3 linked regions of the Homo sapiens genome follow. The protein of the gene in region 2 purifies or fractionates together with the protein of the main gene of each other region. This does not show direct contact. Each region holds a gene or a part of one and is shown on either strand. Other genes may lie near its edges. The genes, in order: MARCHF8, ORAI3 and CRACR2A.

What was found.
Region 1: the proteins of ORAI3 (region 2) and MARCHF8 purify together in Homo sapiens (affinity purification with western blotting; one study listed by BioGRID). This does not show direct contact.
Region 3: the proteins of ORAI3 (region 2) and CRACR2A purify together in Homo sapiens (co-immunoprecipitation; one study listed by IntAct). This does not show direct contact.

The regions. Positions count from the first base shown.
Region 1 is NC_000010.11:45,525,266-45,528,916, reverse strand, and holds part of MARCHF8 (E3 ubiquitin-protein ligase MARCHF8), read left to right. Parts: intron 1-3,651. UniProt on the Homo sapiens protein: E3 ubiquitin-protein ligase that plays several important roles in innate immunity and adaptive immunity.
Region 2 is NC_000016.10:30,952,025-30,955,546, forward strand, and holds the end of ORAI3 (protein orai-3), read left to right. Parts: intron 1-1,160; coding exon 1,161-1,820; 3' UTR 1,821-2,914; downstream 2,915-3,522.
Region 3 is NC_000012.12:3,620,592-3,624,242, reverse strand, and holds part of CRACR2A (EF-hand calcium-binding domain-containing protein 4B), read left to right. Parts: intron 1-3,651.

The sequences.
Region 1 (3,651 bases), on a different chromosome or scaffold from region 2:
ATCTGCAGATTTCTTTGAGTAGTATGGTCATTTTAATGATACTGATTCTTCTAACCCATGATCATGTTTGTGTCATATGTGATTTCTTTCGTCAGCGTTTTGTAGTTTTTCTTGTAGAGATCTTTCACATCCTTGGTTGAGTGTATTTCTGAGTATTTTATTATTTTTTTGTAGCTATTGTAAATGGGATTGACTTCTTGGTTTGGTTCTTGATTTGGTTCTCAGCTTGATTATATCATTGTTGTATAGAAATGCTACTGATTCCTCCTCACAACAAAAAATACAAAAATTAGCTGGGTGTGGTGGCACGTGCCTGTAAGTCCCAGCGACTTGGGATGCTGAGGTGGGAGGATCACTTGAGCCCAGGAGGTCGAGGCTGCGCTAAGCTATGACTGCGCCACTGTGCTCCAGCCTGGGTAACAGAGTGAGACCGTTTCAAAAACAAACAAAGAAACAAACCCCAACTAAACAAAAGAAATACTACTGATTTTGTAGGTCGATTTTGTATCCTGAAACTCTACTGAATTAATTTATCAAATTTACGAGTGTTTTGGAGGAGTCTTAGGGTTTTCCAGGTATAAAATTATATCAGCAAACAGAGATAGTTTAACTTCCTCTTTTACAATTTAGATGTCTTTTCTTTCTTTCTATTGCATTACTGCTCTGGCCCGATAGGACTTTTAGTACTGTGTTGAGTAGGAGTGGTAAGAGTGGGGATCCTTGTCTTCTTCCATTTCTTAAGGGGAATGCTTTCAACCTTTCCCCATTCAGTATGATGTTGGCTGTGGGATTCTTGTATATGGGTTTTATTATTTTGAGGTATGTTCCTACTACACCAAGTTGTTGAGTGGTTTTTATCATGAAAGAATGCTGAATTTTATCAAATGCTTTTTCTGTATCTATCGAGATAATATGGTTTTTGTTTTTAATCCTGTTTATGTGGCAGATCACATTTATTGATTTTTGTATGTTAAACCCTACTTGTATCCCTGGAATATAACCCACTTGATTGTGGTGTACCATGTTTTTTGATGTGCTGTTGGATTTGGTTTGCTAGTATTTTCTTGAGCGTTTTTGCATCTGTGTTCATTAGGGGTACTGATTGATTCTGTTTCTGTTTTTGTGTGTCCTTGCTTGGATTTGGTGTTAGGGTGATACTGGCTTCAGTTAGAGAGGATTTTCTTCAATTTGGGGGAACAGTGTTGTCAATAGGATTGGTACCTATTCTTCTATGTCTGGTAGAATTTGGCTGTGAATTCATCTGCTTCTGGGGTTTTTTGTTGTTGGGAGATTTTTTTTTATTTTTATTACTGGTTAAGTCTTACTGGTTATTGGTCTCTTCAGGCTTTCTCTTTCTTAGTTCATTCTTGAGAGGTTGTGTGTCTTTAGGAATTTACCTGTTTCATCTAGGTTTTCTAGTTCGTTAGTGTAGAGATGTTCATGGTAGACTCTGATGATCTTTTGTATTTCTGTGGTATCATTTGTAGTGTCTTTTTCATTTCTGATTGTGCTTATTTGAATTTTCTTTCTTCTTGGTTAATGTAGCTAGTAGGCTGTCAATTTTGTTTATCTTTTCAGTGAAGCAACTTTTTGTTTCTTTATCTTTTGGGTTTTTATGATCTGGATTTCATTTAGTTCTGCTCTTCATCATTTCTTTTCTTCTGGGTTTGGTTTGTTCTTGTTTTTCTAGTTCCTTGAGGTACTATGTCAGGTTAACTTGTGGTCTTTCTATTTTTTTCGATTTAGGCATTTAACGCTATAAACTTTTCTTTCTTGAATCCATTTACAGTCAACACTATAAGCTTTTGCTGTATTCCAGAGGTTTTGGTATGTTGTGTCTCTACTTTTGTTTAAAAAATTTTTAAACTTCCATCTTAATTTCATCACTGACCCAAAAATCATTCAAGAGCAGGTTAATTTCCATGTATTTGTATAGATTTGAGAGTCCTTCTTGGAATTGACTTTAGGTTTTTTCCACTGTAGTCTGAGAAGACAACTTGAAATGATTTCAGTTTTTTAAAAATTTATTGAGACTTGCTTCATTCCTTAAGATAAGGTCTGTCTTGGAAAATGTTCCACATGCTAATAAGAAGAATGTATATTCTGTGATTGTTGGGTAGCTTGTTATATAAACATCTGTTAGGTCTATTTGTTCTACAGTCCAATTTAAATCCAGTGGGGTTTTTTTTTTCTTTTTTTTTCTGTCTCAGTGGTCTGTCTAGTGCTGTCAGTGGGGTGTTGAAGTCCCCTCTTGTGCTATAAAGGAATGCCCAAGGCTGGGTAATTTATAAATAAGAGATTTTATTTGGCTCACTATTCTGCAGACTGTACAAGAAGCACAGTGGTTGTGTAAAAGTGCCTGGCCTCCTCTCTTCAGCCTGGCTTGTTGGCTGGTAGCAGCAGCTGCTCAGGGCTCGGAAGCCTGTGTACTCCCATGTGAGTTTGAGCAATGCCTCTGTCAATCTCCAGGCAACTCACTCTATTAGGCTGGAGACCTGCGAGGGTCAAGGGGGTCTCCCACAGCTAGCGTTGCAAAAGTCCATGGTGGGAATGTGGAGCCCTGGGAGTCTCTCATCTACCCTTTCCCAGCATCTAGAAGCTTCTTTCATCTCTCAGCAATCCTGGCTGAGCACGTGCCTTGCTTCCTTCTCCTTTGTGATCAGTGATTCCTGTTGCTTTTCAGTTGAATTCCAGTGTTCTGTTTTAGATGACCTATTTGAAGGGTGAATATCTACTCGCCGTTTTGGAGCTTTCCATGGAAGAGGCATGTACTAGCTGCATCTAGTTAGCCATCTTGAACCAAGCTTCCAGTTTCTCATATTATTAACATCTTAAAATAGTGTGCTGCATTCATCATAGTTAGTGAACTAATATGAATACATTATAGTTTTAAAGTCCATGCTTTATTCAGATTTCCCTACTTTTTAACTAATGTCCTTTTTGTGTTCCAGGATCTCATCTCTAGGATGTAGCATATTACATTTTGTTGTTGTATCTCCTTAGGCTCCTCTTGGCTATGACAGTTTCTCAGACTTCCCTTGTTTTAGATTACCTTGACAGTTTTGAAGAATACTGATCAGGTATTTTGTGGAATGTCCTTCTATGGGAATTGTCTGATATTTTTCTCATGACTAGACTAGGGTTATAGGTTTTGGGATGGAAGTCCACAGATACAATGTACCAGTTCATCACAACAGATCGAGTATACTATCAACATGATTTATGACTGATTTTCTTGACCACCTGGCTGATATAGTGACTATCAGGTCTCTCCACTATAAAGTTACTCTTTTTCTCCCCTTTTGTACTTCATTCTTTGGAAGGAAGTCACTAGGCATAGCCCACTTTAAAGAATGGGGAGTTGTGCTCCCCCTCCTTGAAGGTGGAGTCTTTACATGAATTATCTGGAATTCTTCTACATGTCTGGAACCCAAATTGCAAGATTGTCCAAAAAATACATTTTTCAATTTTCTGCCCTGTCCTCCTTGATAAAGGGATCCTGAAAGAAATGATCTGTATCCCAGGATTCCTGAAAGGTGATAAGTAAGAAGGTAATTCAATGATCAACTTATATTTAAAGTAAGCTACACAGAAAATAAAAGTGGTATTTTATATATTTATAAACAGTCCTAGTTTTGGCCCTGTTGTCCT
Region 2 (3,522 bases):
AGTGCTTACTCTGTGCCTGGCACTGTTCTTTTTCTTTTTCTTCCTTTTCCTTTTCCTTTCCTTTCCTCTTTCTTTTTCTTTCTTTCTTTTCTTTCTTATCTTTCTTTTTTTTTTTTTTTTGAGACAGAGTCCCACACTGTCACCCAGGCTGGAGTGCAGTGGTGCGATCTCGGCTCACTGCAACCTCTGCCTCCTGGGTTCAAGCAATTCTCCTGCCTTAGCCTCCCAAGCTCCTGAGTAGCCGGGATTACAGGCGCACACCACCACGCCCGGCTAATTTTTATATTTTTAGTAGAGACAGGGTTTCACCATGTTGGCCAGGCTGGTCTTGAACTCCTGACCTCAGGTGATCCGCCCAACTCGGCCTCCCAAAGTGTTGGGATGAAAGGCGTGAGCCACCACTCCCAGCCCATTTCATGTATATTTCATTTAATGTTTATACCAACCCTATAAGGCAGGGAGGTGCTGTTATCAATCTCTATTTCCAGATAGGAAATTGAGGCACACAGAGAACTGACTTGCTCAAGATTACACAGCTAGAGCAGAGAATGATCCCAGGCAGCCCAGCTCCAGAATCTGCTGTTTGATCCCTATGCAGTAAACCTGTTAGAAGCATGTCATCCAGCCCTTTTTTTTATTTTTATTTTTAATTTTTTTTTGAGACAGAGTCTTGCTCTGTTGCCCAGGCTGGAGTGCAGTCACATGATCTCGGCTCACTCAAACTTCTGCCTCCTGGGTTCAAGCAGTTCTCCTGCCTCAGCCTCTCAAGTAGCAGGGATTACAGGCATGTGCCACGATGCCCGGCTAATTTTTGTACTTTTAGTAGAGACGGGGTTTCGCCATGTTGGCCAGGTTGGTCTCAAACTCCTGACCTCAGGTGATCCACACACTTTGGCCTCCCAAAGTGCTGGGATTATAGGCATGAACCGCCGCGCCCGGCCATCCAGCCCTCTTGATAGGGAGGTGGGGAAACCAGAACAGAACAGAGCCTTTGCAAAGCTGTCCATTCGTTTACTCAACAGAGACTGAATGTCTCTGGTTTCTGCCAGGCACAGTTCTAGGTCCTAGGGATATGTATCAGTGATGTATCCCGATAGGCGGAAAAAATCTCTACAGTTGAGGTTATGGGGAGATCAGTACATCCCCTCTTGTCCCTGCAGGTGGCCATGGTGGAGGTGCAGCTGGAGAGTGACCACGAGTACCCACCAGGCCTGCTGGTGGCCTTCAGTGCCTGCACCACCGTGCTGGTGGCTGTGCACCTCTTTGCACTCATGGTCTCCACGTGTCTGCTGCCCCACATTGAAGCTGTGAGCAACATCCACAACCTCAACTCTGTCCACCAGTCGCCACACCAGAGACTGCACCGCTACGTGGAGCTGGCCTGGGGCTTCTCCACTGCCCTGGGCACCTTTCTCTTCCTTGCTGAAGTTGTCCTGGTTGGTTGGGTCAAGTTTGTGCCCATTGGGGCTCCCTTGGACACACCGACCCCCATGGTGCCCACATCCCGGGTGCCCGGGACTCTGGCACCAGTGGCTACCTCCCTTAGTCCAGCTTCCAATCTCCCACGGTCCTCTGCGTCTGCAGCACCGTCCCAAGCTGAGCCAGCCTGCCCACCCCGGCAAGCCTGTGGTGGTGGTGGGGCCCATGGGCCAGGCTGGCAAGCAGCCATGGCCTCCACAGCCATCATGGTACCCGTGGGGCTCGTGTTTGTGGCCTTTGCCCTGCATTTCTACCGCTCCTTGGTGGCACACAAGACAGACCGCTACAAGCAGGAACTAGAGGAACTGAATCGCCTGCAGGGGGAGCTGCAGGCTGTGTGAGACTGGTGTTAGCCACCGCTCACTGCAAGCACTGCCTCCCTCCGGGGTCTGTAAGAGGCCGCAGGGGCCTACAGACCTCATCCCCCCATCCCCTGGCTGGAGCCACTTCCAGTGGCCACTCTCAGGCAGAGTTCAGATTCCTGCCCGCAGGGTCCTCTGGGCTGGGCCTTGGGGCAGCTCCCACATTCCCAGGGATTTTCCCCATCAGTCTGTCCCTTGGGTTTTGCAAGCTACTCTGCACCTGGGCTGGCCTCAGTTGAAGGATCATGCAGTAGATAGAGGGGAGGCAGGGAGAGCTTGTGGGACCTTCAGTGCTGACTTTAGCCACCATTTCCATTCCTATACAGGATGTGAAGGTCAGAAGGCAGCCAATTGTTGGTTTAATTTTTTTTTTTTTTTGAGACAGTCTGTTTCCCAGGCTGGAGTGTAGTGATACAGTCACAGCTCACTGTAGCCTCGACCTTCCAGGCTCAAAAGATGCTCCCACCACAGCCTCCCAGGTAGTGAGTAGCTGGTACTACAGGTGTGTGCTGCCACACCCGACTAATTTTTTTGTAGAGACGGGGTTTCGCTGTTCCCAGGCTGGTCTCAAACTCCTGGGCTCAAGTGAACCTCCCGCCTCGGCCTCCCAAAGTGCTGGGATTCCTTTCTTTATTTCTGTAGAATCTATTTTATGGTTGGCATTTTGGGGGAAGATTTCGATGGGTTCCACATTCTTGCTTTAGTTGTTGTAGAGGGATTTGGGTGTTTCTACCCAAGGCATTGGTCTAGCTTTTCCTACAATGAACCTATCTTTGGAGGTTCAAGCTCCCCACCTTCCCCCACTGTGGTGACCTGTGGCCACTTGCAGAAGGGATGGTGCCTGACCCACTGCCCTAGCCCCACGCTATGCACCAAACTTGTTCTCCCCGTCCTGGTCCAGGGCTGGGGTCTTTAGAGACTGACAGCCTCTGCCCCAGGCCTGAGTCCTTAGCAAGGGTTGGGTAAGGAGGTTTTAAGGGAGAAGGTCCAGTCCTTAGCCCTTGAAATACAAAGCTCTTCTGACACTGAATTTGGATGCACCTTGTTTTATATAATAAATCGTGTTTCACAGATGTCCCTGTTGCTGTGAAGGGGATGCAGGGCAGGCCTTCTTAGGATAACTTTACTTGTTCCCAAGAGCCGGGTGGTGGCAAGTTTGGGTGGACAGGACCTGGGAGGGGAGTGGGTTTCAGGTGTAACCCTGTCAGATGCTAACAAGGGCCAACAGCTTCTGAATGGGGAGAGTTATTCCAAGGCTACAGGCTTTGAACTCTTGTCCCTGAGTTCAGAGTCTCTATCTCTTCCACTGAGTATTTATTTATTTAGAGACGGAGTCTTGTGTTGCCCAGGCTGGAGTGCAGTGGTGCGATCTCAGCTCACTGTAACCTCCGTCTCCCAAGTTCAAGCAATTCTCCTGCCTCAGCCACCAGAGTAGCTGGGATTACAAGTGTGTGCCGCCACACCCGGCTAATTTTTATATTTTTATTAGAGACGGGGTTTCGCCATGTTGGCCAAGCTGGTCTCAAACTTCTGACCTCAGGTGATCCACCTGTCTGGCCTCCCGAAGTGCTGGGATTACAGGCATGAGCCACCACACCCAGCCCTCCCTGAGTGTTTAGTATAAGCACTCTTTTTTTTTTTTTTTTTTTGAGACCGAGTCTCGCTCTGTCTTGCACTGTCG
Region 3 (3,651 bases), on a different chromosome or scaffold from region 2:
GAATGGTGGCCAGCTGTTCACAGTCCCCCTTCCTCCCTCAACCTGAAAAGCATACAAGAAAAAAGGGCTTCAGTTGCTGTACATGCCTGCATGGGAAAGACTCTTGGAAGAGGTTGTGTGGGGTGGGAACAGATGCTCGGGGGAGGTAGTGGAGTTCCCTGAAAGGAAGTTCTTACTATCCCATCTTGATCACTTCCTGGCCATGAAACTTTGGCCAATCATTCAACAAGGCAGCAGACCAAATGCTCCCTCCTGGCCCCTAAATTTCTACAGTGTATGATGGCATTTGACTATCTCTCTGGGAGGCCAAGACGGAGCAGGAATGTGTGTGGATGAGGAGATTCTGGAGGGTCCTTCCAGCCCAGAGGGAACCAAAATCCTTTGGTGCAAGAGAGCACCAGCACTGCTTGATGAGATGGGAAGACTGTGGCCTTGCCCTTGTTCTGCTATTTCACCCAGTCTAGGCAACTTTACCTTGCCTGCAGGCCTTCTGCAGAAGAGGCCCAGCAGATGCCCTCTGTGCCGATTCTCCTGAGTGCCTTATAGGAAGTCACCGCAGGCAGTCTTTCGGCCAACTCGGCATTTCCAACCCACCCCCAATTTCTTATCTCAATTGGGTAGAATTGGTTTAACCATTCCAATCTGGAAAAGAAACTAGTCAGGCTCTAAGGCCCCACGTGTGGCCATGGGACAAACTGGACATCAGAAGACTCTGGGGCCTGTGTCGGGTAGAGAAAATAGAAATTAGAACGCCAGCCTGTACAAGCCTGTATGGGCTGGTATTTCCCCCAGAGCCGGATTGCTGGCCCCCAGTGTCTGCAGTCCTGGGATGCTGAGCTTCTTGTTTAGAGCCTCTTGTCGTTCTGATGGCACTAGATTCCTGGGCATGTGAGTCGAGGAAGTGAAATAGAATTGGCGGAGTTAAGCCGAATAGACCAGTGTTTCCGAGCTGGAAAAAAACGTGGAGATTAATCTAATGCAACCTCTTGTTTTATAAGTAAGAAAAACTATGATCCAAAAAGAGGAAGTGACTTTCCCAAAGGCGCCCACACTTGTCAGCAGCACCACCCGATCTAGAAGCGAGGGCTTTGCCACACTGCACTGCTTCTCTCTTGTCCTGTGGTCCATGGCTGAAATCTGCTCCTGAAAAGCAGGTGTTCATTTACTTTTCAGTCCTTCTTGCTTCTCTCTCAAAGCAGAACAGTTCTTCAGCTCAAGGGGTCCTGGCCCACTTCCCTCTCCCTTCCTGGGCTGCTAGCTAAACCTCATTCTGCGATCTTTGTCATTGGTGACAATGTACAGCATGGTGCAAAAAATAGCAGTTTGATTTTTTTTTCTCCACGTTCCAAGTTGAGCTTGAAGTGCTGGCAGTTTAAAATGAACCACACAAATAAATCTTGTTTTGACTCATAGTCCAGGGGATGGATAAATATGGAAACCCCCAAGATATAATTTTGCAGGCATTTTTTTTCTTAGCATAACTGCATGCTTTAATGTGCTGAAAAAATTTTTGCTCTAGCTCCAGAGAAATAGCAGCACTATCCCAGCTAAGTGCTTTTTCATGCCTCCTAGCAAATAGATATTAAAACGCACGCACACACACACACACACATGCACATAGGCAACAACCAACCAAACCCAGCAGCTGCACATTCTGAGCTGAATGCCAATCCACTGCTCCAAGTTGACAGCTCTTGTTATTTAAAGTCAGAGATGGGTGATCTTTTGAATTTCAACAAGTCTGTCTTCCAACAAGCTCAAGTTCACAGAAAGGCAGCTGAAATAACTGAAGGTGGAGGGAAGGCTCTCTGTTAGAGGGTCATAGAACAGAACCTGGCTTTGGAACAGAGAGACACAGAAAAGAGGAGAGACTCAGATGAGTCACATGGAGAGATGGTGACAGAGCTAGGGCAGAACCCACATCTCCTAAAGAGAGATTGTGTGCCTGATGAAGGAGCTAAGATGACTTCACTCCAACCTGTCATGCTGATGGGATTTTTACCAACATCTCTCACAGTCTCAAGACAACAGAGTTTGAGTAGACCTGAGACCTGTTCACCAAAGCCCTAGGGGCTTGAAGGAGGTGTTGCTTCATCTAGGAGGTAATTTTGAACATCTTGTGCTGAGTGGTATGCAGGCTGAAAACCTAGTTAGGTATGAGAAAGGTGTAAAGTTTAGACAGATAGTTCCAGACTTTTGGGGTCAAAGTCAGAGAGGACCATGAGACACCTACCCCAATACCAGCTCCTCTCCCTGCCCCTGTGCCAGAGACTGATGACCTTGGGCCAGGGTGATGGTGACTGACTGTGATAGTTAGCACACTCCCTGGTCTTATGGGTATTCTCATTTATTTTTGCCAAATATTTGGAGATGAGTCTGTTTCTCCTTTATCGGTGGCAGGCCAGGGTCCCTGCAGGGAAGCCAGTTGTCCAGAGTGGCTGTGTAAGAGAGGAACAATACAAAGAACAGAAACCGCAGCTCCTGCTGAGTGCTTTGCTTTTAAATTTTTTTTTTCTGCTCCTTCTAAGCTCCTTTATTTTTATATCCAGGAATTGCTTTGGTTTTTTTTTTTTTTTTTTTTTTTTTTTTTTTTTGACAGAGTCTCTCTCTGTCACTGAGGCTGGAGTGCAGTGGCACAATCTTGGCTCACTGCAAGCTCCGCCTCCCAGGTTGAAGCAATTCTCTGCCTCAGCCTCCCAAGTAGCTGGGACTACAGGTGCCCACCACCACACCTGGCTAAATTTTGTATTTTTAGTAGAGACAGGGTTTCACCATCTTGGCCAGGCTGGTCTTGAACTCCTGACCTCATGATCCACCCACCTCGGCCTCCCAAAAAAAAAAAAAAAGAAGAAACCTGCCCTTTCTTTTCCCAGGACGCAAGAGGCACCATTGCTGTTTATGGTGCATAGGACCCAGATGTTGGGCTTATGACCCATTCCCTACCCCATCCTATTGGGTCATTCAGTATCCATCATCCCCTCTGCAAGCGAGGAAACAGAAGCCAGTGCCCATTCCAAATAATACCAAAACCTGGGGTAGAATTCTGCCCTGGGATTTCAAGTCTGATGCTCATATTTTCAGAGTTTCCATGTCAAGAAATCCCACAAGCCTTAATCATTCCTCACACATAAATCTACAAATATCTCTCTCCCATGTGCTCTAAACAGCAAGCCGCTTGGCCCATTTCCCTGCTTCCTCCTCCTTTCTTCCCTTTCCGTGAAAAGCTCTTCGCACAAGTATCCCGTGGCACAGCACGGTCAGAGGAGGGGGTGTTCCCATTAGTGAACGCTCTAGCTAATAGGGGGCCACAGGGTTCCATATATGCCATCAGTGGCTTTCTCACTTTCAAGTAGTTGGAATATGTACAATCCACTTAGGACATCAACTGCAGTGTCCAGAATTTAATCTATTTTTGATGGGTCAGAAGACACTGTAAGATCTTGTAGCGCCTTTGAGTCATCATTGCAAACACAAGTTACCATCTGACCAATAGATACCATTTTTAGAGGGTTCCAGTTAATAAGATACTAAGTAGCAGAGACTTGATTGGAAATAAGAATCTAGAGGAAAAGGTTGGAGAAGTGAGGACCCATATACTAAAGAGTTCTCATAATTCAGTGCTTATGGTGTTGAATGTTCTTTTTGATTCTC